4 separate regions of the Homo sapiens genome follow, and regions 1, 3 and 4 are each linked to region 2. The links come from fine-mapping of genetic effects on gene expression. A gene starts in region 2. Each other region holds a variant in brackets. All regions are shown on one strand. Distances are from middle to middle.

What was found.
Region 1: its variant is fine-mapped to the expression of NSFL1C in whole blood (INTERVAL, PIP 0.97).
Region 3: its variant is fine-mapped to the expression of NSFL1C in whole blood (TOPMed, PIP above 0.99).
Region 4: its variant is fine-mapped to the expression of NSFL1C in whole blood (TOPMed, PIP above 0.99).

The regions. Positions count from the first base shown.
Region 1 is chr20:1,500,885-1,508,990 of GRCh38, forward strand. No RefSeq gene overlaps it. Among named protein-coding and RNA genes, the nearest start is that of SIRPB2, 14 kb to the left of the region's middle. RefSeq lists an enhancer at 1-247. The variant G/A (reference allele first, on the strand shown) is at 4,496.
Region 2 is chr20:1,462,968-1,471,073 of GRCh38, forward strand. NSFL1C (NSFL1 cofactor) reads right to left here and starts at 3,882. Exons shown (of 9, transcript NM_016143.5): 1 at 3,753-3,882; 2 at 1,362-1,459. The coding sequence starts at 3,857. It also overlaps a transcript of SIRPB2 not described here. RefSeq lists an enhancer at 3,111-3,612 and a silencer at 3,907-4,176.
Region 3 is chr20:1,482,565-1,490,670 of GRCh38, forward strand. The region is part of intron 1 of SIRPB2 (signal regulatory protein beta 2); the gene reads right to left. Among named protein-coding and RNA genes, the nearest start is that of SIRPB2, 4.8 kb to the right of the region's middle. The variant T/C (reference allele first, on the strand shown) is at 4,708.
Region 4 is chr20:1,436,553-1,444,658 of GRCh38, forward strand. It overlaps NSFL1C (NSFL1 cofactor), which reads right to left. Exons shown (of 9, transcript NM_016143.5): 9 at 5,614-7,359. The coding sequence ends at 7,197. Among named protein-coding and RNA genes, the nearest start is that of NSFL1C, 26 kb to the right of the region's middle. The variant T/C (reference allele first, on the strand shown) is at 4,777.

The DNA of each region.
Region 1 (8,106 bases), 38 kb after region 2:
TGTGCAGAAGTAAAATTGCTTTGCTAAGAATCCTTGTTTGAGTGTTCAATTTCCTTAGGATTTTGAGCATTATTCCCAACATCCAAGATGCAAGACAAAGTCCTCCTCATTCTTCCCTCTCCTCTCCTCAAGTGGAGGGAAGAGGCCTCTTTCGTGAGCTGTGCAGCCTGGGGTTAGGGGAAGGGTGATGCCAGCACCTTCTTAGCTGCCCTGGCTTGTGTCTCAGTAGGTTGCATGTTCCCTCAGTCCACTGTCTCTGGGCCCAGTTCAGCACTAGAACTTGCCTAGGAGTTGTAGCTCTTGGAGCCTAGACTGCCTTTCAAGTTTATTTAGAGCCCCAGAGTACTTTAGCCCACAGTGGTAAGGCTTGCAGGAACTGAAGTTCAGACCACTGAGATTGGATTAGCAATTCCCCTCTGGCTAAGGCTGTTTAAATGCTCCCTCTTTGGGTGGGTAACAGCTGAGTTTGGTCCCATTTTGTTTTCTTTTATAATAGGGCAGCACTGAGTTCAATGCTTCACAACTGCTGTGATCTCCCTTTCCCCAGTGCACAGAAATGCTCTCCACACCATGCTGCCACTGCCAGGGGTTAGGAGAGGGGTGGTGTTGGCTATTCAAGACTTTTTTTCTACCTCTTCGGTGCCTCTTTCAGTGATATGAAGTAAAACCAGGTATTGTAACTGCTCATTTGATTTTTAGTTCTTATGAAGGCTCTTTTATTTGTGTGTACACAGTTGTTAAATTAGTGTCCTTCCTGGGGGAGATGATTGCTGGAGGCTTCTATTCCATCATCTTGCTCTGTTGTTTTTATGTTTTCTCATTTATCTCTTTTAACTGAGGTATTTATTTGCCTTTAAAGTAATTACTGACATGGAAGGACTTACTATTTTCGTTTTGTTACTTGTCTATATATATGGATAATACATTCAATATATTTTAATATGTCTTGTCCAGTGGTTTTTGCTCCTTTTCTCCTTTGCTGCCTTCTTGTATGTTTTGTACTGACATATTTTGATTCTCTTTTCAATTCTGTTTGTGTATACAGACAGTACCTGAATGTAAGCCCAGCATAAGATAAAAAGTTCCTATGATTTACAATGGGGTTATGGTTTCTACTAAATGTGTATTATTTTGCATAATTGTAGAGTTGAAAATTTGTAAGTTGAACATAAGTCAGGGACAGTATGCTGTGTTGCCAGCATCAAATGCAATTTTGACTTACAATATTTTTGACTTCTGATGGGTTTATTCTTATGTTATCCCATCATAAGTTGAAGAGCATTGGTATTCTATTCATATTTTATTTGTCATCACCATTGCAACTACACAAAGAGACTTAAAGTTATAGCAAGATATTTTAAACCGATAACAACTTAACTTAAATTGCATATAAAAACTCTACTTCTTTACTTCTCTGCCCTCTTTATGTTACTGTAACAAAACAAATTACCTCTTTTTATATTGTGTATTCATCAACATAGATTTTTAGTTACTTCCCATGCTTTCGCTTTTAAAATTCTATACCAAATTCAAAAGTGATTTATACAGCTATGTTACAATACTTCCAGATTTTATATTTGTCTCTATGTTTATGTTTACCTGGTAGATTTATACTTTTGTATGGCTTTGTGTTGCCATTCATCATCTTTTCATTTCAACTTGAAGGATTCCTTTCAGCACTTCTTTCAGGGCAGGTCTAATGGTGATGAATTCCCTCAGTTTTGTTTATCCAGGAAAGTCTTCATTTCCCCTTCATTTTGAAGGCAGTTTAGTACTATATAGTATTCTTTGTTGGCAGTTATTTTTTCTCTCATCACATCCCACTCCTTCTAGCCTACAAGGGTTCTGTTGAGACTTTAGCTGATGATTTAATAGGAGCTCCTTTGTATGTGACAAGTTGCTTTTCTCTTGCTGCTTTCAAGATTCACTCTTTGTCATTTTTTTTTTAAAACAAAGTTTCCCTCTGTCACCCAGGCTGGAGTGCAGTGGCGTGATCACATCTTGCTGTAGCCACAAATTCCTGGGCTCAAGTGATCCTCCCACTTCAGCCTCTTTTCTATTTTTGACAGTTTAATTGTGTCTTAGTGTAAATGCTGTTAGATTCGTCCTGGTTGGAGCTTGTTGAGCTTTTTGAATTTGTATGTCTACTTTTTCCCTCAGATTAGAAAAATTTCCAGCCATCATTTTTTTTAAAAGTCTCTGTGGTGCCTTCTCTTTTTCTTGTCTGTCTTAGATTCTCATAGTGTGTAGGTTGTTCCATAATGTTACACATAGTGTCCCATAAGTTTCTTATGCTCCTTTTACTTTTCTTAGTTCTTTTTTTCTCCTTTGCTTCAGTAATTTCAAAACTCCTGTCTTTGAATTTGCTGATTCTTTCTTCTCTTGGTAACATCTGTTCCTAAGCCCCTCTAGTGGATTTTTAAATTTAGTTATTGTATTCTGCAGTTCCAGAATTTCTGTGTGGTTCTTCTTCATAGCTTCTATCTCTTTTTTGATATTTTCTTTTTGTTCATCCATTGTTTTCCTGATTTCATTTAGTTGTCTGTCTGTACTCTCTTTTAATTCATTGAAAATTCTTATGATTATTATTTTGCATTTTTTTGGTCAGATAATTCGTGTATTTTTTTGGGGTCAGTTTCTAGAGATGTAATGTGTTTCTTTGAATAGGCCATGTTTTCCTGTCCCTTTATATGTCTTCTTATCTTCTCTTGGTACTTTGGCATTTGAAAACTCAGCTACCCCGTGCAGTCTTTGTGGTCTGGTTTTCTACAGGGAGGACTTTCTCCAATCAGCCTGGCTAGAGAATCTGGAGACCTGTCAACCCTTCTCTGGGAATGCACCCTTTTGGGACTTAGTGTGTAATCACGTAACGGAAGAGGTCTTTCTATTGAAGCGCTCCCTCTAGTGTCTGCCTATGATGCTGCGGTCTGGCTGGTGCTGCAGTAAGCCACGGTACTGAAGTTCCACCTAGTTTCTGTCTGTGATACTGCAGACTGATGCTAGAACAAACTAATAGCTCCACCTATTATTTATCTGTGATACTGCATATTTTGGTGCTAGACCAAGTCATGTTGATCATCTTCGTTTTCAGTGGCCTCAAACCTGGTCCTCATTCCCGTCAGCATTTAAATTCAGGCAAGATGGAAACTAGTCCTTTGGCAGCACCCCAAAAAGTCAAAATATTGGATCAATGTTCCACTCCTTTCCCCTCCCAAAGAGAAGTCAGGAGTTGGGGTTTCTTCCCAGTTTGCATGATTATTAATGCTACTGAGCACCTTATAATATTTAACAAAGTTTTTTTTTTTTCCCAATAAAATAGTGCACTTTCTCAGGGCCATGCTGGGTACTTTCATTAAATTAATACTTCATTTTTTACTTCACTACTCAACGTAGCTGAGCAGTTTCCAGTGTACAACACAGTGACACAGGTTTCCCTTGTCCAGGACTTAGAAATTGGAGCTAGATCCCTCCGTCTTGCTCCTTGGATCTATCTTCCACCCCAGGTCCTATGTAGCCCGGCTCCACTTGGAGTGGGATTTCTTTCAATCACCCTGGTTGTATACCCTGGTCAAGGTCAGCCTTAGTCTTAGGTCTTTTATCAGTAAGGAAGCAAGTCCTCTTCTGTCCGATTTTCTACGTGATGTAATTGATCTGAGCTGTGCTGTTTCGTGAGCATTTATCTGGTAGTCTCCCAACATCCCGGGAAGCAACACCTCCCTAAAGCAGCCTGAACACCTGGATTCCGACTATTTTTTGTGTCTGTTAAATATTTTTAGGCTTCCTTTTGACATGCCTATGTATGCAGCGCTTTTGTTCTCACCAAATATTCAGGCATCATTATTTCGGCAGCAGAATGTCTAGCTAGGAAGGACCTAAACGCCTTCCCCACACCGTGTGTGTGTGTGTGTGTGTGTGAGAGAGAGAGAGAGAGAGAGAGAGAGGGAGAGAGATACGTGTGTTATGGCGAGTGTGTGTTATAGAGAGGGAAAGAGAGATAAATGTGTTATAGCTGCAGTGGAGCAGAAAGACCTCTGCTTCTGGTCAGGGGGATCTGGGTTTAAATCCTGCCCTTGGCCTGATGAGGTGGCAAGAATATGGGCAAGTCATAAATCACCCCAGCCTTAGTCCTTAGTTTCCCCTTTCCTCTGCTCCAGAGGTGGCAGTGAGAGAAAAGAAGAATGGAAGAGCAAGGTGGAAAATAGCCAAGAAGCCCACCATCACTCATATTGAATGAGAGATTGCAATTTTTATTACCTGAATAATAGGTACCATTACTGCCTCTTAGGAGGAATAATTTGGCAGATTTGAAAGGGCAGTGGTGAAGAAGAATGAAGCAGCTTTCTGCTTCAACCCTACTGAGTCCAGCTTGTTCAATAAACTGGGTACAGGGACAGGAACACAAAGGGAGACTGTTCAACAAGTTTGGGTAAACTTGACTTGGAAAGAAATTGGGGAAGGTTGTTGTTATTTTGTATGGGCTTTTCCTTTCTCGCTC[G/A]TCTTGGTCTGCCATGTTAGTAGCCTTTGGGTTCAGCCTCCCAGCACCTTGTTCTGTGTGCTTTATCCTATACACAGGAGCATCCCACAAGTAGGGTTGGCAGTAAAGTTGGCCAGGGGCCACCGATGTGGGTGGACTGGATGTGGCCAGTCATGGTGCCTGGGGCCTCAGGCTCTGTTAACTGGATTTATCCTAAGAAGGGAGGGGCAGGGCAGGAGAGTGCTTGGAGCCAGAGAGAAGATAGAGAATTTCAACCCTGTTACTCAGAAGAGGTGAAGCAAAGGGCAGCTCTTTCTTCACTTTCCCTCCCTGGAACCTGGTAATGACACATGACAATGCTCCACATCAGAGAATGCATCTTTCAGGAGCCAGGGAAATGGTAGACATTGATCAGCCCTGGGTTTGAGGCCAGAACAAGCACACAAACTCCTTCTTACTATCCAGTATTCATTGCTACCTTCCCAAAGAGTGATTTTCATAAATATTGTGATAACTTCTAGCCACAGATCATGGGACAAGCTATTAGAGCTGGCAGGACTAAGGAATGTTCTCTGCAGCCCTAGACCTAGGGGCTCTCTCTTCTTTCTCCCCCTCTGTCTCCTGCTGTCTATTCATCCTTCTCTTCATTTCTGCTCTCACCCCAATATGAGAGATTGTAGGGTGTAGTCACTGATTCATTCAACAAATATTAGCATGCGCTATGTACCAGAACTATTCTTGGTGCTTAGGATACATCAGTGAATAAGGCAGACAAAACTCACTGTCCTTATTAACTGAAGTACACATCCCAATTGGGGAGGCAGGCAATACACAATAATAAATAAAGTAAATAAGTAAATGATATAGTATCTTAGAAAGTGATAAGGCCTGTGGAAAGAAATATAGACCAGGGAAAGGGGGTTGGGGTAAGCAGGTGGTGAGGGGCTGTGAGGGCCAAGGTAAGAACTTTGGCTTTACTTGCAGTGAGATGAGCAGCTGTAGCAAGTTTTGGGAAGAGGTGGGACATGATCTGGCCTTTGTTTGAAAGGATTCCTATGCTGGCTATAGGGAGACCAGTGAGGGGCTAATGGCAGCAATCCAGGAACGAGAGGATGAAGGGTGAAATCTGGCAATGGGGATAGTGAGAAATAGTCAGATTCTGAATATATTTTAAAGCTAATGTAATTTCCTGACATAAAGGGAGCGGGATAAGAGAGGAGAGGAATCAAGCATACCTCCTAGGTTTTTGGCTCATCAGCTGGAGAGATGGAGTTCTTATCAGCCGAAATGGGGGAGTCTGTGGGTGGAGCAGAGTTTTGGGGGATAAGCAGAAGGCCAGATTTTGGGATGTAAGCTTTGAGATATTATTGGGCAGACAAATGGAGCTGTTGAGTAGACAGATGGACATGAAATTCATGGGGGAAGTCCCAGCTGGAGAAATAAATTTGAGTCCTTGAGCTATATTTCAATGATATATAAGGCCATTGGACTGGACAAAAGTATCAGAAGAGAGTATGTGGTAGTTAGGAACAAGGGAGTTTGAACCAGACTGCCTGGGTTCAAACTCCAGCCAGGCACTTAGGAGCTGTGCAACCTTGGACAAGTCAATAAAATTTTGTGTCTCATTTTTTCTCATTTGCAAAATTAAGGTAAGTATAGGTTATACCTCATCTGGTTGTTATGAGAGTAACGCAGTTTATAACACGGAAAGTACTCAGAACAGTCTGGCACACAGCACGCTTTCAGTGTATGTCAGCTACCTATCTGTTTTGCAGCAGATATGAATTGCTCCATAATACCTGAATATTACTTAATTACAGTTTTTTTGGAAACAATCTTCATCTGGTAGAAAAGTTACAAGTGTGGGATAAAGAGCCTCTTTTCAGAAACATCTGTGAATAAATTGCTGGCATATTGCCTTATCGTCCCTGGTTATGGCTTGGATGTTGGTATCTCCCCAAATCCACATGTTAGCACCTAATAGCCAATGTGATGGTAGTAAGAGGTAGGGCCTTTGGGGAGTGATTAAGTCATGAGGAATCCACCCTCATGAATGGGATTAGTACCCTTAGAAAAGAGGCTCAAGAGAGCTCCTCAGCCATCTTTTGTCATGTGAGTACACAGCGTTTATCCCCTCTGCCATGTGAGGACAGGGAGCAAGGTGACATCTTGGAAGTGAGGGCAAACCCTCACCAGATGGTGAACCTGCTGGTGCCTTGACCCTGGACTTCCTAGCCTCCAGAAATGTGAGAAATGAGCTTTTGTTGTTTATAAATTACCCAGCTAATGGCATTTTGTTATAGCAGCCCAAACGGACTAAGACACCCCTGAATATCTCAGTGCGTATTTCCTACAAATAAGAACATTTTCCTGCATGACCACCAGACCATCAAAATCAGGAAATTAACATAGGCACATTATTACCATCTTATCTTTAGATTCCCTACAAGTTTTGCCAATTGTTTCAATAACATGTTTTTATAGAGAAAGGATCCAGTTACATTTAGTTGCCATACCTCTCTAGTTTTCCTTAATATAGAAAAAAAATCTCCTTTCCTTTACTTTATGACCCTGACACTTTTTAAAAGTATAGGCCAGTTATTGTGTAGAATGCCCCTAATTTTGTATTTTTCTAACACTTCCTCATGATGAGAGTCAGGTTTTGGCACCTTTGGCAGGAATATCTGGAAGTGATGCTGTGTTCTCATTGCTTCCAATCAGAAGGCACACAATCGGTCCCATTACTAGTCATGTTCACTTTGATTACTTTGTGATGTCTTCCAGGCATTTCCACTGTATTCTTTTTTCCTTTGTAATAAGCATGTAATGTTAAGATTTTTTTTTCTTAATCCTATGAAATCCAGTTTGAGCATGTGCCTCTACCATGGTTGGAGAGAAAGTGAATAGCAGCTATTTTCCATAGCTCCCCACTCCACTCTTGGATTGGATCAGGGCACCGGGGCTGTTGCCTTCCAAGACAAAGGAGATGAATTCTGGTTCTCAGTCTTTATGGGTCACTATGGCCATTGCTCTTTGTCCAGGCCTAACTGGACAAAGTCCCATTTGAAGTTGGCCGGTTCTACTACCTGCTGCAGTCTCTCTATGACAAGCTCTTCCTTGGGGATATTTGATGAAGCTCCCAAAGTTCTGGTTCTTGAAGCCAAAATCTTCTCTGGCATGAATTCAGCACCTCACAGGCCTGGAAATGTCTAGGGCTTTGCATCCTAGGAGGGTGCAGTTTTCCATAGCTCACTGAATTCACCATCCATTTTGGAAGATACCCTTGTTTGGGCCTCTGCACAGCCAAATGTCCCTCCTGCCTTGCTAACAGAATAGCCATTCCACCCAGCAACAGTTTCAGGGAAACCTAGGCCCTTCCCCAGCCCCAGGAGATGAATCATCATTGGTCCAAGGCAGTTATGGCAGCCAGTCCCCTGAGGCTGGGACACATGTTGAGATGTGAAGGGGAGTTGTCTGGAGGCTTCTGGGGAAAAAATTCAAGTAGCTCACTGTCTCTGTGCACAGAGAATGAATATGGTAAAACAGACAAACACACAAATAAACAAACAAAAAACACTTGTATATGGATGAGTCCAATATCACCTTTATTAAAGCATCACAGAAACTACAGG
Region 2 (8,106 bases):
TCATTCAGTCTCCCATGTGGTAGGCACTATCATTACCATTTGACAGGCGAGGAAAATGAGGAACTGAAACGTTAAGTAACCTGCCCAAGGTCACAAAGCTTTTACTTAAGTGGCAGAGCTGGGATTTGAACCAACGCAGTCAGGCTCCTGGGCCCATGCTAATAAACCACTGCCTTAATAGAACTTTGGGATTACTGGAGAAAAGAAAGGAGTAAACATGTAACTGGCATTAGAGACTAAGTTTAAATCTCTCCCCCTCTATAATTCTGACATGCCAACATCCCAACAACACCCTAAGGTGGCTGTCAAAGACTCATACCCCAGAAAATCAGCCATCTCTACTAGCAGCTGCAAGAACAGCACTTACCCTAACAACATGTCCCAAGCAGTAATACCCAGATGTGCCATCACCAACATCTCATAGGTTAGCACGTGCAAACAGTTACAAGATCACTTTCCTCCTACCTCTTTTCTCTGGATGGGAGTTAGGGAAAGAAGAAAGCAATGAGATCTGGGGTTAGTGCTCCTTCTTCGAAGGGAGGAAATATATTTTAAACCTCAGTTGCCTTTAGAGAGAAACATAATTTACCACTTCATGGCAAAGAAACACTGTTGGTTATATTCTGGGGTTGAATTCAAACCCAAATAAAATTTCCTGGCTAAAACATACACTAGAGAGTAGAAGCAATAAGGCGAAAGCAGAGAGGGGAGACACCTCTGCTTACACACTCTCTGTAAAGGTTCAGACACCTTTACAGGAAGCACCCCTGCCTGTCTCCTGGAAGACCAGCATTGTCTCACTCTGCAGAGCACAGGAGTAATCTGCTGTGGGTGCTGTGGGAGGCAGCGACAGGGGATGCAAATGGGATTGCAAAGGTTAACACTGTTTTACCTAGTAAGACAAGGTCTCCCTAATCAACTTGGCAAAGGGTGGGTTACACAGGTTTATTTTGTACAAGACTTCTTAATAAGGTAACGGGCATCCTAAAATATCAAAACAGCTTTCCTAAGTCATTTCGCCTAAACTTTCACATCTATAGCACCCTTGAAAGGAAGTTTTTTGGCTTTTACTTAAAAACTTTAGAGTTGCAGTGGTCATTCCTCATACTACATAAGTAAAAGTCTTAAAAGTAGGTTTGTGGTTTCCCCCAGGATTGAACCATAAACCACACCCAGTTAAAAGTCATGCATCTCTGTATAGGAAATGACTGAGGCCTGCTGGGAAGTACTACCCATTGACTCAGTCTAACCTTCTCATTCAGACCTGGTCCACACACCCAGGCCTGAACGCTCTGGTCAGAAAATAGCTCCTCTTCACTGCTGGAAACACTCATGTAGCGATAATTGAAGCTGGCCCTTACCTGGGGGCTGTGCCTCTGGACACTGAACTGGGGGTTGCCTGCGAAATGGTCACAATGTCTTCATCCCCTCCGTCCTCATAAAAGCTCGCTAGCGCGATCTGAAACAGAGAGGTAGTACCTTGGGACCCTTAAACAGGCCTTCACCTAACGCACATCTCCTTTGAGCACAAAGGAATACAGACATGGCCAACACTTACAAGGTAGCTTGCATCCATGGGCCAAAGAAAATTAGACCAGAAGGTTAACAGCTCAGCTGTTAGTCTTCGTGTCAACTGAAACAAATTCCACCCACTAAGGTGAAAAGAAGGCAGTAAGAATGGCTGGGGTGGAAGACACTCTTTATTCTCATTTTATGAAGAAACGTGATCTAGTAAAAGTAGCACACATTTAGTGAGCATTTACATGCCAGGTTGTTCTGAGCATTCTACATACGTTAATTTGTTTAATCCTCAAGAACTCTATGCTATTAGTACTCTTATCATCTCATTTTATAGTTGATACAGAAGCACTGAGGATTAAAAAAAAATTTGTTCAAGTTTACACAACTGGTAAAGAGAGGAGCCAGGTTCCATCCCTGCTAGTGTGCTTAGGCCCTCACTCTTAAGCGCTTCCAGTACAGCCCGGAGTCAGGAACTGTGGAGTCAGTCCAGGTTGCTACTTTTCCTTTCTTTCAAGTTGTTTCCTAATCTGTGAAATGGGGGTACCTGTCTCACCAACCTGCACACTGGATGAGATAATCCATTAAGATTTATGCATACTCGCATCTTAGGTTTACACATACAGAAGGAATATGGGAATCCTTTGGTCATTTGTGACATCTCTGTCACCAACTCAACGGACAGGCATTCACTAATCACTTGCTTTGCACAAACACAAGAAAGCATTGAGGTCACAGAGATGAAATAGACATGGCCTCTGTCCTCAGGGTCACCAACTTCACAGGAGACAGTGAGCTGTCAAGGGATAAAAGTAATCTGCTGGGAGGCAGTGTGCTGTCTCAGGCCATGTAGTGAACTGGCATTCTCAGGGAGCCTACATTCAAGTCCTGTTCCTGCCAGGCAAGTCACATGCATGATCCTCAGTTTCCCCACTACAATGTGAGGGGAACGAGACAGAAGATCTGTTGGTCACAACACTGTGTGCTTTTAGGTCTTTCAGGTAGAAACTTTTTATTTCTGCCCAGCATAGGGGCTTCCCATTGTGTCTAGGTGTGATCTAGGTGTGATGCTTTACCGAATTCTTATGTTTGGGGAGTAATTTACGTTTGGCAGCAGACTCAGTTCAAATTCCAACCCCGCTACTTACTGGCTATGTGACCCTGAGCAAATTCTTTGCCCTCTGTGCTTCCAATTCCTCATCCATAAAATGGGTCTAGTCTTTACCTCATAGTGTTGCTAGGATCCAACGAATCATATTATGTAAAGTGCTTGGCACATGGTGGTTTAAAGCTTGGGCTCTGTCTGCTTGCAATCAGACAGAACTGGGTTCCACTTCTACCTCTTCTGCCTGGTAGCTAGTGAGGCCTTGAGCAAGTTACTTAACCTCTTTAATCTCAGCTGCAAAATGCGAAGGTTAAATGACAAAAGACATGTAAAGCAGTCAGAACAGCGCTTGGCTCATGGTAGGTACTCAATAAATATTAGTCATCACCGTCATCATCTACCTAAGACGAAGCTGGCCAAGAATATTTATGCAATTCTTTCTACAGTTAATTACCGAATGCTTATTATGTGCCAGGCATTGTTCCAGGCACTGGGAATTCATCAGTGTACAAAAATCCCTGCCTCGTGAAGCTTAAGTCTTCTTAGCAAGTATTTAGTGAATACTCAGTACGTGCCAATGAACTACACAGCAATTTCCACGAGACTCCCATTTTACAGATAAGTTAACTACGCAAGGTGAAGAAGCTCCAACCTTGCGCCACCACCCCAGAGGTATTCTCCCAGCAATTAGGAAGGCTGGGCGGCGGTCAACTCCCGGGCTGGACTTCGGAAGTGGAAATGAGCGGCCACCTAGTCCCGAGTGGGGCTTCACCCAAGAGCTGCTCACTCGGACCAGCCCGGCCTCCAGCAGATACTCGGCGCGGCAGCCACGCCCCCAGGCGCTCCCTCTCCTCGCCGGCTGCCGCAGCGCCCGAAGTCTCGCTGACGCCGCAAGCGGGCGAGGCAGGGTGAAACTGGCACGGCAGAACTGGCTGGGGCTGGCCCGCGTTCCCCCACTCCCAAGCCGAGCAGGCGACGCGTGACAAGCGGTCCCGGGACCATGAGGCCTGGGTCGGGCCGCGGTAGAGCGGGGATGACTGTGCGCTTCGGCCGCCGCGGGCTTAAGGCACCAGGCGCCCGCTCCCAGCAGTCCCCGGCCCACCCGACACAGCCCGCCGCGCGGCGCTACCTGCAAGTCCCAGCCGGCCGACTCGAGAAAGAAGCGGGCCCGGTCCTCCTCGGCGCCCGTCACCGCCACGAACTCCCTCAGCGCCTCCTGTCGCTCCGCCGCCATCTTCGCCCCGTGCGCCTTCCAAAGCGCTCCGGCGGCCGCCGCACAGGCCCAGCCCCGCTGCCGCGTTCCGCTTGCCGGTCGACGAGGCCCAGCCGATGAGGGCCCAGCAGCTGGGAGCCCGCCCGCAGCCCCGCCCCACGCGGTGCCTCACGCAAAGCCCTCCGTGCGGGAAGCCCCGCCGCTCCGCGCCCTCTGGCGACCGCGGCGCGAACCGCAGCCTAACGGCGGGGGTGGGAGCCCGAAGGATGAGAGGCGGGGCGGGTCTTACATACACCTGTGGGCTGAAGGCTCCCTGCAGGAGTCAGATTCCCAGTTATTCATTGACGCAGCCCTCATTTCATTAATTGTGCATTCGTTCATTCACTTACTTGTCAAGCATTTACTGAGAGCTATCAATGGCCCGACGTTTTTCTAGGGCTGTGGATATGGCAGGGAGCAAAACAAAGTCCCTGCTCCCATGCTTCTTACATTCTAGGGGTAAAAATTCAGACCTTGAACAGGCTAGGCCTCCGCTCACAACACGTCCATGCCTCGTTATCTCGCCCCGCATAAAAGACAGTCTCATGGCCTGCCTGCAGGACCCATGAGAGATGGGCCAGTTCCTCCCTCTCATCAAGGGATCCGCTAGCTTCCTCTGCTCCAGGCGCCTTGCCCTCCTTGCTGTTCCTGGAACTTGCCAGTTATCTTGCATTTGCCTCAGGGCCGTTGCATTAGCTGCTTCTGTGCCTGGAGCACCTTTCCCTTACCGATGGGCAAGGCGCTCTCCCCGCTTTCTTTGGGCCTCTGCTCCAAGGCCACTTTCTTAGGCACAATCCTGTCTTCTGGGTCCTCAGCTTCTTTGCCCTCTTGCCTCTCCAAAGAGGAACTTACTTGTTCAGCTTACTTGTTCTTTGTTCTCTATTTTCAAAGCCTAACTTCCTTGTTCTTTGTACCTCCTTACCCCTAGTTACGGTAAACAACCTTCCCGCGGGTCCTAATCTATAACTCACATCTGTTCCCTTGGATACCCTCGCTACAATTGCCATTCCCGCGGAAACTCTTCTTCCTGCCGAAACCGCTTGCCCTACCACTGTAGCCCACATTTCTGCTCCATTTGAACTAGCCAATCGGGATTAGCTTAGATTGCGCAGTCCAGCCCCAGCCAATGGGAACAGGACACAGAAGCAGCGACTAACCGCATTAGGGATAAAAACCCCTTCTCTCTTTTGTTCGGTGTGCTTTCCTGAAGACCAGATGTGTGAGTGGCACCCTTCTGCAGAAGTAAATTGGCTTTGCTGAAAAATCTTTTATTTCAGTGCTGGTTTTCCTTGAGACTTCGAGCTTTAATTTCCAACACCACCGTGGGACACTCTTCCCTTCCTCTTCCTCTGTCGGCCCCTGCTCATTCTTCAGCTCTCAGTTCAGGTGTCCCTTTCTCAAGGAGACCTTGAGAAGGTGCCCAGGCTTAGTCAAAACCCCTCTTAATCAGGTTATGAACAGCACAAAGTCCAGTCTTCCCTCAATTGACACAATAGTTGCTTTCCTGGAAAATTCGGTGTCTTATTAACACTGTGCAAGAAATCCTTTAAGTTTATATGACAAACGAGTTAGGGCTTGGGTTAGGTTATTAGGAGCATGGTTGCAGCCACAATAGGCCCTGGCAGGAGGCATGGGAGGAGGGTCCTTTCTTTGTGGTGTGAGACTCTCCTTTCTATTGCAAGGCCACCCAGGACCAGCCCCGGTCCCTAGGACTTACCCCTTTCATCATTGTGTCAACTCGAAATGCACCCCAACTTTCCAGGAAGTCCAAGAAGCTAGAGGCTCACTCTGGACCTCACGATTGGCAACCAGTAAGGTCTTTCTACCCTGGAAACTGACAACGACTAACCCCAGCTTAAAGATCTGCAGGCGATCAGCTCCTCAAGGTCCAGTTCCCTGGCTGGTATTGGAGTCATTGAAACTCATTGTCACCCCCCCTCTTCATTTTTGTGCCATCAGGGAAAGCTCTTTGTTCGGCCAGAGGGTCCCTGATCCCTCTTCTAGAGGACTTGAGGGCATCCTTTCCCATAACACTACCTGGCAGCTAGTGTTTACTGAGCACTTACTATGCCCCTAGACACTCTGCAAAGAGCCTTAGATACACTAACTCATGCACCCTATGAAGTGAGTTCTATTGTTATCATTTCCATTTTGCAGATGGGGAAACCTAGACTTCTAAAGAGTTTTGAATCCAGGTATGGCACAGCTCCTGAGTCTGCTTCTAACCGCTACACCACACTGTCTCTCCTTAGACTGCAGGACTGTGCTGGTCACTTCCTATGGCTGGTTTCTGGAAGCAGCTCCAGATGACCCAACTGGAGTTTAAGGCAGGGGATGTGAGGGCATGAACTTGAAACTACATTTACATAACACTTATCTAAGTGTCCTTAACAAAACTAGAGAAGGAGGTGCTGCAGGCTCAGCTTTAGCTCCACTCTCCTATGTCCAACCACACCAGCCCCCAACCTCCAGCCCCATCCCACCCAAGCCCCATCCCCAAATTCTACCACCACGACCACCTCCAGCCTCACCTCTACCTCACAGATCCGCCACCAGCACCTGACCCACCCCGCCCCACTTTCCCTTCTAACTCCACCCTCAGTACTAAATGCACCCCACCCTCCAAAGCCCACTTTCACTCCATTTCACCCCCAGCCCCCTCCGGGCTCATCTCCATCTTCCTTCCCACTCCAGTCTCACCCCAGCCCCTCCCTTTAATCCTATCTTCCACCACCTCCCGCCCCACCCCAGCCTTCCTTTGGCACCCCCTCTGCCGTGTCCTCACTGGTGGTGACTTCACTTTGGGCAGGAGCTGTGTGTACCCAGGACTGGTGTCTCCTCTGACCCCCTACTCCAGTCCCCTAAGCGCTAAACCCTCTATAGCTTAGGGGGCCAGGGGAGCTGCTAGGTGGAGCAAATGATTGATTTCTCAGCTGACATTCAGACCTTCCAGAGGCCCCTATACATGGAAGCTGCCGGTACCACTCACCCTTCTCTACTACCTCAGCCTCAGCACTGCCTTCTTCTACCACTCTTCTTCACAAAAGGTGACAGAGCGAGACTCTGTCTCAAAAAAAAATAATAATAATAATAACAACACTACCACTGCCTCAGCAAAGTTGGGACTATTTGTCTCTCTTTTCACAACATCTTCAACTAATGACAATAATAATAAAATAACAGTACTGCCAGCCGGTGACTAATGCTTGGTTGCATTAGTCAGCAGTGAGAACCAATGAAAACTGCAATGAGATTCCCTTTTGCCTTATCCAACTGGTAAAACATTTACAAGTCTGACTGTTAGAGTAGGCAGATAGCCAGAAATAAGCAGGCAAGGGAGCGTTTGGGAAAAGAAGTCCTGGAGACTCCATTCACTGACAGTCAGCGCCACCCACTGGCGGCCAGCAAAGAGACAATGGCTACACTGGCAACTTCTGGCCTTGTGGTTGGGCTCCTCTGGCCCTAAAGGGGACTTATGAGGCCTTACCCAGAGATAACCATGGTAGGGACTTTCCCACTGACGAGCATGTGCACTCCTCCAGTAACTCGCCCTACAGTAGCCTTTTGCTCATTATAATAACAAGCCGGGCACAGTGGCTCATGCCTGTAATCCCAGCACTTTGAGTGGCCGAGGTGGGCGGATGACGAAGTCAGGAATTTGAGATCAGCCTGGCCAATATGGTGAAACCCCGTCTCTACTAAAAAAATACAAAAATTAGCCAGGCATGGTGGTGCGTGCCTGTAGTCCCAGCTACTCAGGAAGCTGAGGCAGGAGAATCGCTGGAACCCGGAAGGCAGAGATTGCAGTGAACTGAGATCACACCACTGCACTCCAGCCTAGGTGACAGAGCGAGACTCTGTCTCAAAAAATAATAATAATAACAACAAAACACACCCCTGAGTGGAGATTTTAAATGCTAATGAGACAGGCAATGTGTTTACTAGCGCGTACAAACACACAACATTCACAGCCAGGGGGACCACCTAAAACATGATTGTAAGTGACGCTCCCTCATGCCCCTGCACGAATAATCATGTAAGATTCTCATAAAGAGGGTCCCCCAGCACCAGCTGCTGCTGGCTCGTTCTTTCAGAGTGTACTGTCTCTTTAAATAAACACTGCTACTGCTGTTTTTTGCCTGATGCTGTTTTCCAGCCAGGTCAGCCCACTCCTTTCTAGGAACGTACTTTATCTTTCTTCAATAAACTCTGCTACTTCACCTTTGCTGTG
Region 3 (8,106 bases), 20 kb after region 2:
CTCTTTCTCCTTCCCTCCCTCCCTCCCTCCCTTCCTTCTTTCCTTCTTTTTGGAGTGCAATGGCACTATCTCGGCTCACTGCAACCTCCGCCTCCCAGGTTCAAGCAGTTCTCCCACCTCAGCCTCCTGAGTACAGCTTACTTCACTTAACATAATAATCTCCAGTTCCATCCGTGTTGCTGTGAATGACTACATGATTTCATTATTTTTTTTTCACGGTTGAATAGTATTCCATTGTGGGTGTGCTTGGGGACACTATATATATGTATTTTTTTTATCAATTCATCCATTGATTGACGCTTAGATTGATTCCATACATTTGCAATTGTGAATATTGCTGCAATAAACGTAGAAATGCATGCACTCCTTTGATATATTGATTTCTTTTCCTGTAGATAAATACCTGTTCTAGGATTGCTGGATCATATGGCAGTTCTATTTTTAGATTTTTGAGAAATCTCCATACTGTTTTCCATAGTGGCTGTACTAATTTACATTCCCACCAATAGTGTATAAGAGTTCCCTTTTCTCCTCATCCTCATCATTTTTTTTTTTTTTTTGAGAGGGAGTCTTGCTCTGTCACCCAGGCTCGAGTGCAGTGGCACCATCTCAGCTCACTGCAACCTCCGCCTCCTGGGGTCAAGTGATTCTCCTGCCTCAGGCTCCTGAGTAGCTGGGATTACAGGCACATGACACTACACTTGGCTAATGTTTGTATTTTTAGTAGGGACAGAATTTCACCATGTTGGTCAGGCTGGTCTCGAACCCCTGACCTCAGGTGATCTGCCCACCTCAGCCTCCCATAGTGCTGGGATTACAGGCACGAGCCACAGCACCTGGCCTTTTTTTGGGTCTTTTTAACAATAGCCATTCTAACTGGGATAAGACGATATCTCATTATGGTTTTGATTTGCATTTCCCTGATGAGTGATGTTGAGCATATTTTTTCATATACCTCTAGGCCATTTGTATGTCTTCTTTGGGAAATGTTTATTCATTCCTTTCCTTTGCTCATTTTTAATTAGATTATTTATTTGTTTGTTTGCTTTTTTAACTGTTGAATTGTTTGAGTTCCTTGTATATTCCAGATATTAGTCCCTTGTCAAATGGGTACTTTGTGAATATTATCTCTCATTCAGGAGGTTGTCTCTTCACTCTTTTGATTATTTTTCTGCAGTGCAGAAGCTTTTTAGTTTAATATAGTCCCATTTGTCTTTTTTTTGCCTTTGTTGCCTGTCTTTCGAAGTCTTAGCCACAAAACCTTTGCCTAGAGCAATGTCTTGGAGTGTTTTCTGATTTCTTTGTATTGTTTTTCAGAATTATCTTGTATCTTACTGATCTTCCTTAGTATCGATATTTTGTGTTCTTTTTCTGGGATTTTGTAAATTTCTTCTTGATTGGGATGTGTATTGGTATAATAGACCAAGGGCATAGAATACATAGACCAATGGTATAATAGACCAATGGCACAGAATAGAAAACACAGAAATAAATCCATGTATTTACAGCCAATTGATTTTTGGCAAAGGTATCAAGAATACACATTCAATAAATGGTGCTGGAAAAACTGGATATCCATATGCAGAAGAATAAAGGTAGACTGCTATTTCTCACCATATACCAAAATCAACTAAAGATGAATTAAAGATCTAACTGTAGGACCTAAAACTATAAAAACTACTAGGAGAAAACAGGGAAGGGACTCCAGGACACTGGTATAGGTAAAGATTTTATGACTAAGACCTCAAAAGGGTCAGGCAACTAAGACAAAAATAGACAAATGGGACTATATTAAACTAAAAAGCTTCTTCATAACAAAAGCAACTATCAACACAGTGAAGAGACAAACTCTTGAATGAGAGAAAATATTTGCAAAGTACTCACCTGACAGGGGACTAATCTAATATCCAAAATATACAGGAAACTCAAACAACTCAACAGTTAAAAAAAATCTCATTAAAAAGTGGGCAAAGGACATGAATCAACATCTCTCAAAAGAAGACATACAAATGGCCAACAGGCACATGAAAAAATGCTCAACATTACTAATCATCGGGGAAATGCAAATCAAAACCACAATGAGATATCATCTTACCCCAGTTGGAACGACTGTTAAAAAGGCAACAATAAAAAAAAAAAACAAAATAAATAAACAAACCACCACAAATATATGCTGGTAAGGTTGCAAAGAAAAGGAAACTTTATACATGGTTGGTGGGAATGTAAATTAGTACAGCCACTATGAAAAACAGTATGGAGACTTCTCAACAAACTAAAAATAGAAATGCCATATCACCCAGCAATACCACTACTGGATGGCCAGTATGGAATACTATTTGGCTATAAAAACAAATGAAATTCTGTCATTCGTAGCAACATGAATGAAGATGGAGTTCATTATGTTAAGTGAAATAAGCCAGGCACAGAAAGACAAACATCACATGTTTTCACTCATACGTGGAAGCTAAAAAAATTGATCTCATGAAAGCAGAGGGTAGAATGATACCAGACGTGGGGAAAAGTGAGTGTAGGGAGAGGGGCATGAGAGAGATTTGTTAATGGGTACAAACATACAGTTAGATAGAAGGAATAAGATCCTGCCATTTGATATCAGAGTATGGTAACTGTAGTTAACAACAATGTATTGTAGATTTCAAAATAGCTTGAAGAGAGGACTTAAAATGTTCCTAACACAGATAAATGAAAAATACATGAGGTGATGGATATCCTAAATACTTTGACTCATTTATTACACATCCTATGCATGGAACAAAGTATTACATGAACCCCATAAATATGTACAAATGTTATGTATCGATTAAAAAAGAAAAATTGGAAAATATTTTGAACTGAAGGAAAATGAAAACATAATATAAAAATTTGCGGGATTCTGTTAAAGCAAGGGGAAGTTTGTAGTATTAAATGCCTATATTTGGAAAGAAGAAAGGACTCAAATAAATTACCCACTTTCCACCTTAAGAAACTAGAAAAAAAGGCCAATAAACTAAACTCAAAGTAGTGAAAGAAAGGAAATCATCAAGCTGGAAATGAAACTTAATACAGTAGAACACACACACACACACACACACCACACACACACACACACACAGAAAAAATCAATGAGAAGAAGAAAATCTTTGAGAAGATCACTAAAACTGATAAATCTCTAGTCAGATTGAACAGAGGGGACACACACAGAAAGAACCTAAATTATTAAAATAAGGAATAAGATTGGTGATACTACTACAGATTTTACTCTTATTAATAGAATAATAAAAGAATATTATGGAAAACTTCAAGTCATACATATTTGACAAATTAGGTAACATGAACAAATTCCTTGAAAAAGATACACTGCCAAAGCTTTCTCAAGAAGAAAAAGACAACCTGGTTAGCCCTATTATCTATTAAAAAGTTCAATCTGTTATTAAAAATCTTCCCAGAAATAAAGGTCCAATCCAAGAAAGTTTCATTTGTGAATTTTCCATATCTTTTTCTTTTCTTTTCTTTTCTTTTTTTTTTTTTTGAGACAGGGCCTCACTCTGTCACCCAGGCTGGAATATGGTGGCGTGATCTCAGCTCACTCCAACCTCTGCCTCCCAGGTTCAAGCGATTCTCCTGCCTCAGCCTCCTGAGTAGCTGAGATTACAGGCATGCACCACCATGCCCGGCTAATTTTTATATTTTTGGTAGAGGCAGGGTTTCGCCATGTTAGCCAGGCTGGTCTTGAACTCCTGGCCTCAAGTGATTCGCCTGCCTCAGCCTCCAAAACTGCTGGGATTGCAGGCATGAGTCACCATGCCCAGCCAAATTTTCCATATCTTTAAGAAAGAGATAATACCAATTTTATACAAATACTTTTAGAAAATTGAAAAAAGGAGCATACTTTTCTAATTATTCTATGAGTCCCAGTGTTATCTTGAAACCGAAGCCTTTTCCTTTCGAGAAAGGAAAATCAATATCTCTCATGAACATAGATAAAAAATTTTACACAAAATTTTAGTAAACCGAATTCAGCAATCAGCAATATTTAGAAAGTATAATACATTATAATCAAATTGAGCTTATCCCTGGAATATAAAGTTGGTTTAACATTCAAAAATCAATCAATGTAATTTACCATATTACTAAACTAACACACACACACACGCATATACATGCACTCATATAATCATCTCAACAGAATGCAGAAAAAGCAGTTTTCAAACTTGAACATGCATTCCTAATAATAACTCTCAGCAAACTGGGAAGACAAGGAAGGTTTTTCAAGTTGATAAGGGGCACCTGTGAAAACCCTACAACAACTCTATCAAGCTTAGTGGTGCAAAAATCAATGTTTTCCCTGCAGATCAGGAACTAGACAAAGATGCCTGTTTTTACTATTTCTATTCAATTTTGTAGGATAGGTACTAACTGTGAAAAAGGTAGTAGGAAATAAAAGACATCCAGATTTGAAAGAAAAAAGAAAACTGTCTTTATGTGCATATGACATAATTAAAATTTAAATGAAAATTTCTTAAAAAGGCTACTAGACCTAATAAATGAGCTTAGCAAGGTGGACGATAAAAGATCAATGTACAAAATTATATGTATTACTATACACTAGCAATAAACCACTTGAAATTGGAATTTTAAAATTTCCAGTCATCAATGTTATAAAAATAGAAAATATTTAGCCAAAAATGTAAAGGAACTGCAAACTGAAAA[T/C]GTATAAGCCATTGCTAAGATAAAAAAAATCAAGCCTAAATAAATAGAGAGGTACACACTGTTCATATGTTGGAAGATTCAATATTGCTTAGATGTCAATTCTTCTCAAGTTGATATATAAACTCAATGCCATTCCCATTCAAATCCTAGCAGGCTTCACTTTAGCATTGATAAACTAAATCTAAAATTTATAGAATAGCCAAAACCATTTGAAAAAGAATAAAGTTAGAAAACTAATACCACCTGCTTTCAAGACTTAGATAATGTTACAGTAATCAAGACAATGTGGTATTGCACAAAGATAGATAAACATATCAGTGGAACTGAATAGAGAGTCTAGAAATAGTCCATGCAAATAGAGGCAACTGATTTTTTAAAAAGAGATGAGGTCTCGCTATGTTTTCCAGGCTGGAGTGCAGTGCTATTTTGGGTGTGATCGTCATAGCACACTGCAGCCTCAAACTGCTAGTCTCAAGCAATCCTCCTGAGTAGCTAGGAGTACAGGTGCATGCCATGGCTCCTAACTATAATTATTTGATATTTGACAAAGGTGCAAAGACAATTCAATGGAGAATGGGGAGTTTTTTCAACAATGGTGCAAGAACCATTGGAAATACATGTGCAAACAAATGAACTTTGGTTTATATCTCAAACTATATAAAAATTAACTCAAAATAGATCATATAACTAAACATAAAATGTTAAACGATACAACTTCTAGCTGCAAACATGGAAAAAAACTTTGTAACTTTGGGTTAGGCAAAGATTTCTTAGATGTAACACCAAAATCATGATCCATTAAAGACAAATTGATGAATTGGACTTCATAAAAATTAAGAACTCCTGCTGTTCGGAAAACACTTGTAAAAGAATAAAAAGACAAGTCACAGAGTAGGAGAAAAATCTTTGCAAAGCATATATCTGGCAAAATATTTGTATCCATAATATATAACGAACTCTCAAAACTCAATAATAAGAAACACACTTAAAAAATGAGAGTCGAATAGACACTTCACCAAAAAGGATGCATGATGTAAAAAATGTTCAGCATCATTACATATTAGGGAGTTAAAATCACAGTGAGAGGTTGGTAATCCTAGGACTTCGGGAGGCTGAGGCAGGCGGATCACTGGATCCCAGGAGTTCAAGACCAGCCTGGGCAATATGGTGAAATTTTGTCTCTACCAAAACAAAAAAACTAACCAACCAACCAGACAACCACAAAAATTAGCTGGGTGTAGTGATGTGCGCTTGTAGTCACAGTTATTTGGTAGGCTAAGGTGGGAGGATCGCTTGAGCCAGGGAGATGGAGGTTGCAGTGAGCTGAGATCAAGCCATTGCACTCCAGCCTGGGCAACAGAGTGAGACCCTGTCTCAAAAAAAAAAAATCACAGTAAGATATTACTATGTACCCATTAGAATGACTAAAATTAAAAAGATTGACCATAATAAGTGTTGGTGAGGAGGTGTAGGAACTGCCATCCTCCTACATTGCTGATGAGAATGTAAAATGGTACAACTCCTTTGAAAAACACTTTGGCAGTGTCTGAAAAAGTTAAACGTATGGCAACCATATGATCCATTTTATTCTCAGATATTTCCCTAAGAGAAATGAAAGTATATATCCACACAAAGACTTGTACATGAATATTCATAGATGCTTTATTTATAATAGCCCTAAACTGCAAACAACCCAAATGTCTGTCTACAGGTGAATGGGAAAGGGTTTATCCATACAATGGATAGACATGAGAAGAAATGAACTATTGACATATGCAACAACATGAATGAATCTCAAAATAATTATGCGGAGTAAAAGAAGCCAGCCAAAAAGGAGTATAACTGTGTGATCCTTATTATATACAATTCTAGAAAATGCAAACTATAGTGACAGAATACAGATCCGTGGTTGTTTTGGAGACAAGGAGGAGTGGCAAGGACGAATCACAAGGAAACTTTTGGGCGCTGGATATGTTCATGATGCTGATTTTGGTGATGATTTCACAAGTGTGAAATACACCCAGCACTCACAAAAAAAACTTATCAAATTGTGTACTTTACATATGTACGGTTTAATATATGTCACTTACACTTCAATAGAGCTGTTAAAAATAAATTATTTGTAAAGATGAAGCCTGCGTGTGTGAGGAGAAAGAAGCAATGGAGGAGAGGAAGAAGGAAGCACTCAGAAAGTCTTATCTCAGCTAGGGGTGAGTCTGGGGAAGTGAACACCAGGGAAGAAGCTGGAGCCTGGACTCAGTCCTGGTGCCCACACCCCTTCCCTCCCTCTCCCCTTCTGAGTCCCCTTCTGTGTTGTCACTTGGGCTTTAGGAGGTGTCCTAGGAGGTTTGCCTCTGCCTTGTCAGTGGAGCTGGACCTTCTCATCTATTTTCCATCTGCATCCTCTGCCTTTCATGGTTCCTGTATGGGGCTCCCTTTAAAAGCCTTATAGAAAATGTGTTAGCCCCAGTCTCCTCTACTGCAAAATAGGGGCACTCATATTTTTCTCGGGGCTGCTGTGAGTATTAAATAGAGAAGTGGTGAGGCTCAATCCTGGGCCAGCTACGTAATTTGTGAGGCCAAGTGCAAAACGGGAATGCAGGTCCCTTGTTCAAAAACTATTGAGCAACACAGCAGAACATTAAACCAAGCATGGGGCCCTTCTAAGCAGGAGGCTCTGTGCCACTATATAGAGGGCACACCCAAGAACCAGCCCTGACTCAGCTTGAGATGCAGCTGGACTCAAACATTCCAACTGACTGGTTTAAGCAACTTCTCTTATTTTCCATCTATTCTATTGCAACAATCATTGGGAATATTTTTTATTCTGAGTAGTTTAGATTTCTGATTTCCTAGTCTAGTGCCTAAAACATAGCAGACACTCAAAAGTACCTGTGGAATGAGACCTAGCAATTATGATTCACATCTTAGAATTGAGGAAATCAGCTTAGAGAATTGAAGTGGTGTCTTGAGTCATACGGCCAATGAGTAAGGGAGCACCTAGGTCCGACCCCACACCTGGGTTCTGCCAGGATCTCTCCTGGGGATGGCCACCCCGGAGGACCAAAGATGTCATGGACAGAATCTAGATCTCAGTAGAGCCTGGAGCAGAGGCCCAGATGGGCAGGAGATGGAATGAGCCCACTGAGAGCCAAGTATCCCTGCCTGGTAGATCAGAGAGTTCTGGACTCAGAGGCTGAGCTATATATTCAGGGGTCTCAAGACTCTGGAGCTAACCTGGCCTGCCCCTGAGTTAGAGGAAACATGGGAATGATAATAATAATCGCCAAGAGTTATCAAATCTTTGTTATGCCAGGCACTTATGGGTATTATCTTGTTAAATTCTCCTAAGAAAGTCCCAAGGTGGGTCCTATTTTTAGCTCCATTTTACAGTTGGAA
Region 4 (8,106 bases), 26 kb before region 2:
TTATCGCCAGGCACGGTGGCTCACACCTGTAATCCCGGCACTCTGGGAGGCCGAGGTGGGCGGATCACCTGAGGTCGGGAGTTTGAGACTAGCTTGGGCAACATGGCAAAACCCCATCTCTACTAAAAAATACAAAAATCAGCTGGGTGTGGTGGCACATGCCTGTAATCCCAACTACTCAGGAGGCTGAGGCTGGAGAACTGCCTGAACCTGGGAGATGGAGGTTGCAGTGAGCTGAGATCATGACACTGCACTCCAGCCTGGGTGACAGAATAAGACTCCGTCTCAAAAAAAAAAAAAAAAAAAAAAGAAAAAACTAAGGTAAATTTATCATAAAATTGTGGACTTGCACATGCTGGCTAGGTGGAATAGGCATGTTGCTTAACCTCTCTCACCCTCATATCTAAAATAGAATTAAAAATGGTACCTGTCTTATAGGGCTTGCCTGAGGATTAAATGGGATGATTCATGAGAAATATGTAGTTAATAATGTGGTACAGAAAAATACTCAATAAATAGTATTCATGGGCTGGGCGCGGTTGCTCATGCCTGTAATTTCAGCACTTTGGGGGGCTGAGGCGGGTGGACTACCTGAGGTCAGGACTTTGAGACCAGGCTGGCCAACATGGTGAAACCCCCTCTCTATTAAAAATACAAAAATTAGCTGGGCGTGGTGGTGCGTGCTTGTAATCTTAGCTACTTGGGAGGCTGAGGCAGAAGAATCTCTTGAGTCCAGGAGGCAGAGGTTGCAGTGAGCCAAGATCGCACCACTGCCCTCCAGCCTGTGCAACAGAGTGAGACTCTGTCTCAAACAACAACAACAACAACAACAAAACAACAACAACAACAACTGGTATTAATGCAAACAAAACCACACTGTGAATCCACTGCTCACTTACCTGACAGGCAAATGCTCACAGCGCACCCTGCTGGCGAATCTGTGGGAAAACAGGCTCTCAAGTCCACTGCGGGTGCAAGAGTAAATAGCACTTACACATCTGGGAATTTACTCTTTACACATTTGCATATACAAGCTTTGCCACTGTAGTACTGTTTGTAACAGCAAAACCCAGGAGACACCCACATGTCCTTCACAACAAATGACCTCCAAAATCTACTGTTAAATGGAAAAAGATGTAGATAGTGGTGGGCAGGCTGACACACTTGTGAATAAGAATCGCTGCAGATCTATTGGATCTAAGATGCCAGGAGTGACAAAGCCACCATTAATTTATATGCCACTAAGAAAGACCATTGCTGATTAAATTGGCACAATGCTTAGAATTTTATATTTGAGAACTCATTTAGACTTATTTAGACATGAATTTATATCATATCAACTTTGGGCACAAATAAAAAGGAAACATATAGACAAAATAAATATGTTAAGGTATTAGGTGACACCAGGACTGCCTTCTTGTATGATGCATTCTGATTTCAGAGTTGCTAAAATATGGGAAACAATGGATGCCTCAGAATAGACAGAGAGTATCGGCTTGTATTTAGGAACTCTGCAAGGACAACTAAGAAACTTATAGTGGGGAGGGAGGGAGGGAGGGGAAATTGGGCAAATGGCATGGATAAGAAGGGAGGTATCTAAGACATTTTTTGGCACCATGTAAATATATTACCTATTTAAAAGTAATTTTTTTTAAAAAGGCCATTCCCAGGTCATAGTCAAGATTTTGAACTTCATTTAGAAGTACAGCTTCTTCCCTCTCTCAGGGGCAGGGTCGCAGGGGACATGGGGAAGGGCCTGCTGGTTTCCTGTGGCCGGTGCAGATGCTCTGGGCTTCCCTCTAGGGTGCACTTGTTGGTTCTTCAGATCTTGGTTCACTTCCCTTGAGGAAGCCAATAGATTCTCTAGCTGGCTGCTTGTAACTCCTCCCTCAGTCCTGCAACCCAAGGTCTATCTTGCACTAAGGTCCCTCTGTCCTTCCAGAGCAAGACCCAGGACAGTCCAGTCTGGCTGCCTCATGGGTCCACATTTGGCTGATGGGACTTATAGCACAAGCTCCTTCACACCAAGTTCTCTTTGCTTCATCAGCCTCTTGCTTTCAAGATTGCTCAGGTGTGAGGTGGGTGCCTGGCACCTTCGTCATCTCCAAGCTCTTGAGTGGTCTCCTTGAGACACCAATCCCTAGGCTGAGGGAGAAGGAAAGCTCCCCCTTCCCCTGTGCACTCAAAGCCCTCCAGTAACTTCCTTTAAAGAAAACTCTTCTCAGAGCTCCAACTTGAACCTTTAACGTCTTTGGTGTGGGAAAGAGGCAAGGAGACACACAGCTAGTTTTTGACCATGTCTTTGAAAGCCCTGTGTGTGGACAGCAATTCATCCTGGGAGGTGGAGTAGCTAGGCCCCCTATTGCCTTGGGAACCCAGCCAAATTGGGATGGAAATAATTCCATCTTAGTATATTGTCACATGGATGATCAAACTAAGGAACCTGCCGAGGCCACACAGCTAGTACCCAGCAGGCTGACTCCTAAGCCTGAGCTTTTCCTGCTGCAGGTGGTTCACCCAGAGCTGACTTAAAATAAGCTCATGGTACAGAGGCCAGGCCAGGAGGATGGAGTTAGATGGCCCTTGGTTCAAACTCAGTTGTCATTTATTAGTAGTGTGTCCTTGACTGCTTTCTCCTCTCTGATTCTCCGATCATTTAACCAATAGACGTTTAATGGCCAGGTTGTCTACCACGTGCAAGGCACTCAATTTCATTCTCTGTAAAGATGTGAATAATAAAAGCACCTGTTTCACAGGAGTGTTGAGAATTAATGAGATCATGCTCAAGTGTTTGACAGCGCCCGGCACATGGTAAGGGCTACACAGCAGCACCTATTGTCATTCATAAAGTTCCTCCTATGCGTCAAGGGCTTCACAGACATCTTTAATCCCCATAGTCTAAGAGGTAGGAACTACCATTATCCCTGTTTTCTGAATGAGGAAGCCAAGGCTCAGAGAAGCTTAGGTGACTTGTCTAAGGTCATGCCTGGTATAAGATGGAACCTAAGTTCAAAGCCTGCCCCAAGCCTCCACATGCCCTCTGAGTTTGTCTCTTGAGGAAGGACAACTTTTTTGCCTTTTCGTCAGAGAACCAACCTTTAATCACCCTTCACAACCCAGTTCAAGGGTGTCCGCTTCCGTTTTCCCTGTCCCTCCCTGCCCGACCCAATCGTCCCTCCTGCCACTGCCTTTGTGCCTGCCTTTTTCACAGCAGTAGAGCCTCGGGGTCAAGGGCTGTGGCTCTGCGTTCAGGTAGTTGGGGATTCAAATGCCTCTTACTCCGTGTGTGGCTTCAGGCAAGTCCCATCACCGCTCTAAGCCTCAGTAACTTCTTCCATAGTGGGCTAACCATGGTACCCTTGGGTTGTTAAGGCACAAACGGCCTGGCACAAAGTGAGTGCTCAAATGATGGCAGCTGCTATTACGATTAGTAGTAGCAAGTCCTAGTCCTGGCATTGAGGTTCTCAGTTGCTCAACACGGAGGGTAACTGGCCCTTAATAAACCTCTTGGTCCAGCTGAGACAGGGCAAGAAGGGACTGGGGACATTCCTGTCACACCCGCTTCCTACCCCAGACACATCTTCTTAGCACCTGTTGCAGGAACACCCTGTGGCTCTAGGTGCCCTTTAGGACGCCCCCTCATGGCTGAGAACCTGCTTTGGGAGGAGGGACTGCAGTTCCCAAGCAGGCACCACATGGGGGTGCTTTAAAAGCCTTCTTGCCTTCCATCCTTTTAGATAAGGTCTGGTCTCCATTTCACAGGTTCATCCAAGCACGCACTTGTTGAGGATCTACTATGCGTCAGACACCATGCCACCTGCTCCGGATACAAGAGTGAGGAACAGGCATTTCTGCCCTCATGGAGTTTATAAGCTAGTGGGGGGACCAAGGAAACAAGCACGTTAATAAATAGAGTACATATTAGATGGAGCAGAGAGAAGAAAAATGAAGCAGGTCAAAGGGATGGAGGGTGGTGGGAAGGGGCCAGGGCCTATGGGGCTCTGCAGGTCTTAGAAGTTTCCAGGGGTAATGGAAAGCTCCCAAGGACGTTAAAGGATGGGAGTGGCAGGCTGTGGTTAATGGTGCCAAAGAAGCCCTTTGCCTGGGTGGGGCAAGGGCAGAAGCTGGGGGACTGATGAGATTCTGCAGTCATAGGTGAGTGACTACGGAGGCTGGCCCAGATGATCGTAGGGGAGGGGTGACCAGGGGCACCCAGAGGATTGCTGATGGACTGGACATGGCATGAGATGAGGCCACCGAAACAGAGAGGCACAGTCACAGTGCAGGAGCTCAGACTGGGACCTGGGTCAGATGCTACAAGTCAAAAAGTGTTTTCTACTCTGCTTCCCTGTCCTGGCCTGGGAAGAGTGTGGCCTGGAAGAGGGGGACTGGGATCCCCAGCCACACACCCTCAACACAGGAGCCCAACGCCCATTTAAAGAAGGAAGGCCTTTTATTTGGGCCTGGGAATCAGGAGTTGGCAGTTCTCTCTGAAATGCTGGGAGTTAGGAGACAGGGAGCAGCAGGGAACCCTTATTTCTGTACCAGCTGCTTCCCCTGAATGAGCTCTAAGTCATCTTTAAGCTCCTGGCAGGGAAGGGCATGCTTTGTCCTATGGATGGGTATGAAAAGGGCCGCTGCCCCTCTGGAAGACACTTTGGAACGCCATTAAAGCCATGCCTAGCTCTTGACCACATGCCTGCTTCTTCCCTGGCCTTCTACTGAGGAAGCAGCCGGATCTGTGCAAGACTCTACCTACAGGGTTGCTGGGCATGA[T/C]TGTTAACAAGATCAAACAACCCACATCCCACAGCAAAGACTAGTTAAAACTGCACTTTTAGAAAGGGCATCATGACAATTACTTTGCCTATTTTTCATTTTGATGAGTTTTGGGTATCTATCAAGGCATATCCAATGAACTGACATGCATCCTTGTCCTGGCCCATTTAATGCCAGGAGGTTCTCTTACCAACCAGTTTTTGGGGAGATCCAAAATGCCCCAGTTGAGAACTGAATTCAGAAGCCCCGGAACCAGTGGCTGAGTATCCTTTTTCTTCTAAACCTGTGAAAACCTATCTGGGTGGATGGGCCTTTCCATCTGGACTGCCCAAAACAGAAAACTAGGGCTGGGAACATCCTTCCCCAGCCTGGAACCAGACCAGTGTGATCCCTGGTCCAAGGTCAGAGGGACTGTCTCTCAACTGTGGTGGCTGCATCAACAATATAGGTAAGAGTTAGATCACCTGCCTCGCTTACTTCCCAGAGGTGCTGGGGGCCCTGTGCAAACTACCGTAGATGATACAGGTTTTAAGTGGGTGTTTTTACAATCTCTTCTGCAATATACTAATTAATTAAGCAGACACTGTGAGAAGGAGGTAGGGGGAGGTCAAGTGTATGTATATGGGCCTGGCAGTTAGGGATGGAGTGTATACTGCACTCCATGGTGGCTGAACGTGGGCTCTGGATGGGAAGAGGCAGTACCTTACCACTTACTAGCAGTGTGACTGGGGCTCAAGGTTTTGCACTGTAAAGTGGGACCTTTGTGAAGCACTTAAGTACTTCTGCTGGCTGCTGTAGTTTCCGTCAAAGCAACCCATTAGAAAGTACAAAACTCCATTGTCCTCATTCTGGTTTTTAATGGTCAAGGTGACAACAGTGTACAGTTTTTCCAGACCCATATGTAGGTTCCATAATCTCCACCTGCTGGAGAAAACACCGTGACAGATGCCATTGCCCCAGCAGGCCACTGCCGGTGTGGGAACTTTGGGATCAAAAGCACCAAGCCAAGTCCCTTGCTCAGGATGGGTCTTGGTTGAAACCACAAGCCCTTCTGCAGTTCTAGGTGGATGTAGTGTTGGTTCTTGGCTCATTGCAGGGGTGAAGCAGGAAAGAGAAAGAGACTGGTGAGGCCTGCTTGGAAAGAGGATTGAGGCACATTACGATTCCAAACCAGGAGATCCTGAGTCAGCACTGATTCTGTCTCTGGTTTGTTTAATACGGGAAAGGGTTCCATCCAAGAGCCCAATAGGCCTCCTCTCCCAAACCTGCATAGCAATCAAACTTATAGGGGTGGTGGAGGGTCTTTACCAGGCTAGGACTACTGCCTATGTTTCTGCAAGTCACAAGTCAGCAGGTCAAAGAACAAGTGTGAAGCAGAACCTGCTAAGCAAAGCCAAGTAGTGACACTCACTTCCAAAACATACCCAGCAGAAGCCTCCTGCAAGTACCAACAGTGACAGGTGCTTGTAGCACAGAAAACTCACCCCTTCTTCAACAGTTGATTTGATTTGCCACACATCACTAGTGAACAGCTCGGTGGCATTTTGACTGTTTATCTTATAGGGCAAGATACCCTGATTCTGAACTCACTTAGGATGGGTTGGCATGAGCTGTATCCTAGTGAAAAAAAATATCCCACCTACCTCCTAGGTCCACTCAAGACTTCTGCACGTGGAGTAAATCAAGCCATAATGGAGCCCCTGAGAATCCCCAGGAGGCGAGCAGTCTGGATGGTAATGGAGGAAAGGGCCAGGCAGGCAGGTGGAACAGAATCTCAACTGGCCAAGACCTGGCAAGATTAGATACCCCAGGGGTTGAGTAAAAGGAGCACAGGGAAATATTTATTTTCACCTTCTGAAGACACTGTGTGCATGGAGCTCTGACTTCCCACTTCAGGGAACTCTGGCTGCCGCCCAGTTTTATCTGGGCAAGTGACATATTCTCGTGGGAACAAGTGGTGGCGAAGCCTCTTTCTACACATTTCCCCTCCTTCCTCCAGTCATCTGTGGGGCTGGCGGGTGGGACACACTAGTGAATAAGCATTGTGTGCCACAAGTTTTTATGCAGAGAAGATGGAAGGAAGTTTCCTCCCACAGGCCCCAAGATAAATATAATTTTAAAGCAATTAAAGCCTGCTTCAGTGGGAGAGTTTCCGTACAACATGCTGGTGATATTCCTTCAATTTTTTTGGTTGTTTTTATTTTTTTTTTCATTAAAGTCCATTGATCATCACAAAAACCCAGGAAATGCAACTAAGGAGAAAACAAACGTCCAACCAAGATCTAAGAACCCAGAGCTATGGAGGAGACGTTGCACTGGACTGCTGGGTGTGCACAAGGGGGCAGGAGGGGCGATCCCCATGGGGCATGGCCACTGGCCATGGGAAACACAGGAGGGAGGCCAGGCAGCTGGCTGGGCGGTTATGTTAACCGCTGCACGATGACAGCATTGAGCAGGTTGGCTTCCTTCAGGGTCTGGCTCTCATCAGCCAGCTCTTTGTTCGGGAAAGTAGTCATGAGGATAAAGCTGGTGGCAGCCATGGCTGGCCGGGCATCCACGATGAAGAGTCGGATGTCGCTGATCCTGCAGGAGTTGGGGAAGCGGTGAGCAGTGCCATCCTCTGCTGTCCATACCCCTGCCCTGTGGAAAGCTAAACACCTCGCAAATCCCCTTTCCTGACTTTCTCCACAGAACAGCGAAAGCTACGCTCAGGCATGTGGGACCAAGTCCCTTCCTTGCCAAGAGTCCTTCACTGTTGTTTCCATTTTCCTTGAGATAAACACCAACAACCCTACTGTGTTCCCAAGGACCTAATTTTATACCACCCTCTTTCCCCTCGTTCTCTTCTGCCCGCTTCTAGTTCATCAGGCCATACTCTCTTCCCACATTTGGGTCCTTCTTTCCAGAGGCTCCCCTGCCTGATCCCCTTTCTGTAATCCTAATCACAACTCAGGCCTCGGATCCAATGCCACCTCCTCAGGAAAGCCCTCCTTAGCTCCTTGGCTCCATCCCTGGCCCTCCTTCCACGTTTCTGGGATGATCTGATTAGTGTCTCCTCCTGCAGCTCATGAATTTCACAAGGACAGTGTGTGTCTCTTTTGTATATCACAGGAGGCACTTAAACTATCTGTCAGAAATTAATGGTCAACTTCTCAGGGCCAGGAATCGTTTCTCCAGACACTACCTGCCTTCTGAACCTGGAGATCATATGACAATGAAACCACCTGGAAACAATGCCTCCTTCCCTAGAGCACTTAAACATAAGTTTCCTTTTTGCCCCAAACCCCTAAAATCTATGCAACTTACAATTTGGCACATCTAAGGGCATGG